2 separate regions of the Homo sapiens genome follow, and region 2 is linked to region 1. The links come from fine-mapping of genetic effects on gene expression. Tissue or cell type: lung. Region 1 holds a variant in brackets; the other region holds the start of a gene. All regions are shown on one strand. Distances are from middle to middle.

The links. PIP is the estimated chance that this variant, and not a neighbour inherited with it, causes the effect.
Region 2: it holds the start of DKK3, and the variant in region 1 is fine-mapped to the expression of DKK3 in lung (TOPMed, PIP above 0.99).

What each region holds. Positions count from the first base shown.
Region 1 is chr11:11,965,246-11,968,001 of GRCh38, forward strand. It overlaps DKK3 (dickkopf Wnt signaling pathway inhibitor 3), which reads right to left. Exons shown (of 7, transcript NM_001018057.2): 5 at 1,709-1,853; 6 at 564-720. Among named protein-coding and RNA genes, the nearest start is that of DKK3, 42 kb to the right of the region's middle. RefSeq lists a silencer at 1,728-1,777 and an enhancer at 2,620-2,756. The variant G/A (reference allele first, on the strand shown) is at 1,650.
Region 2 is chr11:12,007,125-12,009,752 of GRCh38, forward strand. DKK3 (dickkopf Wnt signaling pathway inhibitor 3) reads right to left here and starts at 1,502. Exons shown (of 7, transcript NM_001018057.2): 1 at 1,246-1,502. The coding sequence starts at 1,458. RefSeq lists an enhancer at 1-689.

The DNA.
Region 1 (2,756 bases):
GCACAGAGCCGTGGGGAATGGGAGTTCTGCCTGTCTGCCCAGCAGCCCTGGATTCTGTTGGGAGAGAAGACTGAGTAGAGGCTGCGGGGAGGACAGGGAGATGTGCCCTGAGAAGCTGGCCAGGCTTGAGCCTCATGCCTCATGGAGTCTCAGCAGCCTCAGACAGTGTGGGCTGCACCCTCCACCTTGGTGGCCACTCCTGGCCTCCCCGTGGCCTCTCTGCCAGCTCCTTTTTCTCTGCTTATCTGTCATTGTGACAGGTCTGGGGAGGGAGCCCAGGCTTTTCTCCCTCCATGTCCTCTCCATGGACCATCCACTCATGAAGCTTCAGCCACCAGCTAGATGAGCCCCAGATCTGTGCCTCCTGGGCAGCCTGGGCTCCAGACCCCTAGAACCGACTGCTGATTGGACCCTTCCATCTGCATGACCCAACGACCTCTCAAACCAATCCTAAAGGGAATCTACACCTCCCCCAGGGAAAACCTGCTCCTGCTCCTACGCCCCTGCTGGATGGCACCTCCTCAGCCCTTGGCTCCCTGAGAGTGAGGGTTAGGGGGCCTCACCTGTGGGGCTGGCAGAGGAGGCCACTGGCACAAGGGCATCGGTCCAAGGCTCCATCAGGCTCTAGCTCCCAGGTGATGAGGTCCAGAAGCCGGCTGGCGGGGTCATGGCAAAGCTCGCCCTCCACGGGCAGGGGTGTGCACACAGGGAACAGCAGGCCTGGAACCAGCCCAGAGTCACCCCTGTGTGCCCCGTGTAGGGTAGAAGGGCTCCAAAGGGAGGGGCAAAGAAATGGAGCATAACCTCCCACCTCCCACCCTCAACCCCAAAGTGCAGGCTAGTTTTGAAGATACGGAATGACAGGAAACAAGAATAGCAGCCTGGGCTCAGGAGGGAATGATTGGTAGGGCTGAAGCAGGGAGGACTGCCTGGAAGAGGTGGGCTTCTGCTGGATTTTGAGGGCCAGAAAGTCTGGAGAAATTAAGAGGGAGGCAAAGGCATTCAGGCACAGGGACAGCACCAGCAAAGGCCTGGGGTTGAGCTCAGTGGAAAATGTCAGGGCCGGTGAAATTCCCAAATAGGCCAAGAAGTAGTGGAGAGAAAAGGAGGGCAAGTAAGTTGGAGCTGCATGAGGCCTCACAAGACAGCCTAAGGAGTCTGAACATCGTGGGAGACAACAGGAGCTGCTGCAGGTCCCAGGGGAGCAACACCCAAAAAGCAGCCCTTTAGGAAGATCACGGAGGCGGCAGGTACAGGGAGGACTAGTGGGCTGGGGATGCAGAGCTGGGGAGGCGGCAAATGAGAATTTTTCAAAACCCTAGTGGGGGCGGAGAGAGCCTGAGCAGACCTCACCTGGGAGAGGCAGGACGGAAGATGGGAGTGGAAGCGGGTGATTCACAGGTAGAGGAACCTGGGAAATAAGGAGTGGTGGGAGGGAGGGGGCTGCTAGTCCCACCCCATTCCAGACTGGGCTTTTGCATCCTGAAGTCATTTAACTTTTCTGAGCATCAACAGGGGAAAAAAAAGAGGTGGTCTTCCCACTCCGGGCAGAGGCTGTGGGAGTGCAGCACACACTGATGAGCATTTGGGAGCCTATCCAAGAGGTGGGACGCGAAACCATGTGGTTGGCATGGACGTGGCTCCAGGAG[G/A]TCCAGTGTGGTGGAGCTTGGGACAGGGTTTTTCCTGCATCTGAGGGGAGGCCACTCACCTCTCTGGAAGGCACAGCACAGCCCCGGCTGGCAGTCCCTCTGGTTGTCACAGATGGTCCCATTGCTGCCCCTGGTGGCCATTTTGGTGCAGTGACCCCAGACACACAGCTGGTCTCCACAGCACTCACTGTCCCGGGTGCAGAGCTGCAGACAGGTGGAAAGAGCCTAGAGCCAGCGGCTTAGGGACTGGGGGCCTGCTGAGAGCCCAGCCTGAAGATACCACAGATAGGCCAACCTGCATCCTCCCATTGTAGAGACAGGCAGACCAGGCTGAGATTTCAGTGAAAGTCAGTGGGACAGAGGTGGGAGCTTGGCTGGCGAGACATGGGGGTCAGAACGCTGGAAAAATGGCACCGGGAGGACTCATGGATCTGAGTCTTTCTCCACAGCTTAAGATTTTGCAAAGAACAGCAGGGGGTCTTTGTGGTCCCCACAGACTTGTGCTGTTCCCTTTTTCCTTAGGTCCCTAGGTCCAGGCCCAAAGAGGCAAGGCCCAATGATGAGCCGATTAAACTAAGGCCCAAGCCAGCCCAAGATGAGGATGGCCTGTGGGTGCCAGGGTCCTGCAGCCACACAGGGCATGGCAGTTAGAGAGCAAAGTGAGGTCCCCACGGCTGTGCCCAGTGACGGTACCGAGTGGGGTTGGCTGCGAGGTGCAACAGCAGTGGCCTCACCACAGACAGTCGGGTAAGGTAATAAGAACTGCTTGACTTTCCAAGCTTATTAGCATGCTGTGTTATTGTCTGAATAAGGAAAAATGACTATGAAAAGTCTGTGAGTCCATGTGGCTTCGTCCAAAATGCCTGTTGGGTGAAGAGTCTCCTTTGCCCTGGCTCCACATTTCCCAATCTAACCTGCACTGGGGCAGTGCCCTGGCCTCTTCTTGCCCTGTCCCTCTGCCCTCTCTTATTGGCAGATTGGAGAAAGATCTGGTGGGTGGGGTGCAGGTCCAGAAGGAGAGCAGCTGCCGCTCTCCCTGCCTGGGGGCTGCCGGAATGTCTCTGTTTGTCTATTAGGATGGGTCATCCCCAGGGGAAGCAACAGGTG
Region 2 (2,628 bases), 42 kb after region 1:
TTCACTGCAAACTCCACAGGCTAACTGTTGTGGAGTGGGAGGGGAAATAGCCCCAAACTACAAAGGGCTGCGGGGAGAAAGCAACTTCCCCCTGGAGACAAGGGCCAGCAGTTAAGGCTTTGCCCAAGGGGGATACCAAGCTGGAGACAGCAGGGATGTGAAGCCAGACCAGGGGCCAACCAGCCTGGACATTGGTTTCCTGCTGCCTCCTTCACTAGGACGGCTGGCTCCTCTCTATAGACACAGGCTACAGACAGATTGGGCCCAACAGCGCCCTCGTCTACCCACCCCAGGCACCAGGGACAGCTCCCCGCACCTGGACAGAGAGGGCTGGGCCAGTGACATCTCCTGCCCAGGTAGCCCTGGGCATGCGTGGGTGACCATCACAGAGGACAGAACAAGATGCCACCCACAGTGTTTAGACCTGGAGGTGATGGAGGGCAGAAGCTAGGCAAAGCTTTGCTAAGGTACGTGGTATCTGATAATAGTTGCTAAATACTGCGCACCTATTATTTGCCAGGTGCCCACACATATGACATTTAGTTTTCACAGGAAACTGAGGTGCAGGATATTAAGTGATTTGCCCAATGTCACCCTGCTACTGAGTGGCAGAGGAGGACCTGAGCCCAGGACAACTGCGAAGCACCGTTGGGTGGAGGGGGTATTGCCTCTCACATCCTCATCCGCCACTCATACAGTGCTGAGATTTAGGATTTCCATCTTCCCTCTCTGCCCCCACATTGCGTGAGAAGCAAGACAGCCCAGACAGACTGCCAGCAAAGCTCAGGGCTCTTTGCCTCTTTGTCCCTGCATGGCATCCTAACAAGCTCAAAGCATAACGGACAAGCTAGAACTTGGCGATGCCTGGAGCTTGTCCCGGGTTTCTGTGAAACCACAGTGCTGGAATACCAGGGGCCCTGCAAACCTCTGCTGACAATAGGGAAGGCCAACGGCATGCCTGACGCCAACTGCAGGCAGGTGGTGGCCCCAGCTACCTAGGGAGGGTCCAGTGCAGAGCCTCTCGGTGGACAGGCTCAGATCCAGACTTTTTGGCAAGGAGGCAAAACGAGGCGGGAGTAGGGATCACCGTGCGCTGCCTCCAGGTCACTCCGCATCTGCTGTCGGCCCTTCCCAGGCCCTGCGCGGGACCCGAGGTCCCTGGCCAGCGCTCTTCCATGCCTTCCCAGACTTCGCTGCCCCCAGTCTGGCGCTTCTCAGAGCCCCGCGCCGCCAGGGCGCACCCACCTCTTCCACCGCGCTGCGCAATTTGTGCTGCGTGTCCTCCATCAGTTCCTCAACCTCGCGGAACATCTCATTGAGGGTGGCCTCCTCCTGCGGGTAGCTGAGAGCCGGGCCGGGCTTGACTGGAGCCGAGGTCGCCGTCGGAGCGGGCGCGGGGGCCGTGGGGACCGCCGCCGCCAGCAGCAGGCACAGCAGGGTGGCCCCAAGCCGCTGCATCTCCGCTCTGCGCCCGCAGCCGCCGCCTGTGTGTCCCGGAACGCGATCAGAGGCGCGCGGACCACCCCCCTCGCTGGGCCCGCCGCCCCGCCCCGTTCCGCCCCGCCGCCCGCCCCTGGCGCCCCTCTTTCCCGCACCCGCCCGGAGACGGGAGGAAACCGAGGCCCCTGAAAACGCAGCTCCCCTACACCCGAAAAGACGCGACCCCACCCGCTCCAGCCCGAGCCCCGATCGCCCCAGGACCCCGCACCCCCATCCTCGAGCACAAGCTGAGCTCTGCTCCTCACCTGTGATGCTGGAGCCCTCGCCAGAGCAACCGAACCCGGATCCTCTACGCTAATAGCTCCCAAGCCCCAGCTCACCTAGACTCTGTCCCCGGTTCAAACCCTAGCCCCTCCTCGACCAGGTCAGAGTGCCCGACCCCCACTTCCACCTCAAGCCTCTCTCAGCCCCTACCTGGGGTGGACCAAGCACAGGTCAGCCCCCTCCCCTTGGCGTCGGGTCCTACTCGAGCGCCCCGCCCCACATCCACCAAGAGAGGCTGAGCTCAGCAGAGTCGTCCCCTCCCCCGCCGCCGCCCCTCACCCACCCCGACTGGACCGAGTTGCGCTGCGGGCCGGACTGGATCTGCTCGCTCCCGCCGGGAGGCCGCCGGGCTGCGGGTGCAGATGCGGGAGCGGCGCGGTGGGCGGGCCGCGGGTGCGGGAGCGCGGCGGGGTGCGGCAGCGCCGGTACCCGAGGGAGCCCGCAAGACGCGCCCCGCCCGCCCACCAGGCTCCCTCTCCGCCCCCGCCCCGAGCCCCGCCCGCCCACCAGGCCCACCCCGCCCCGCGGAGGGGCCGCAGCCCGGCCATTGGCCAGCCGGGGCGCCGGCCACCTCACGCCCCACGCCCCACGCCCTCCTCTTCTGCCTCAGCGACCAGCTCTACCGAAGGCAGCCATCTCCTTCACTGCCTGCCCCTGCGCCCGCGGCATCCCAGGCCCGTCTTCTCTGGCCTCCAGGCTTGCAACAGCCCACCGAGGTTGGGGGTAGGGGGAATGTTCCTCAGTCCCACCTTGGTCTTTCCAAGCCAACCTCTGTCCTGTGAAATCCTCAGGAAAAATCCCAGCCCCCAGCCTGGCATTCAAGCCATCACCGCTGGCCTTAGTCTGCCGTGATTGACACCGTGC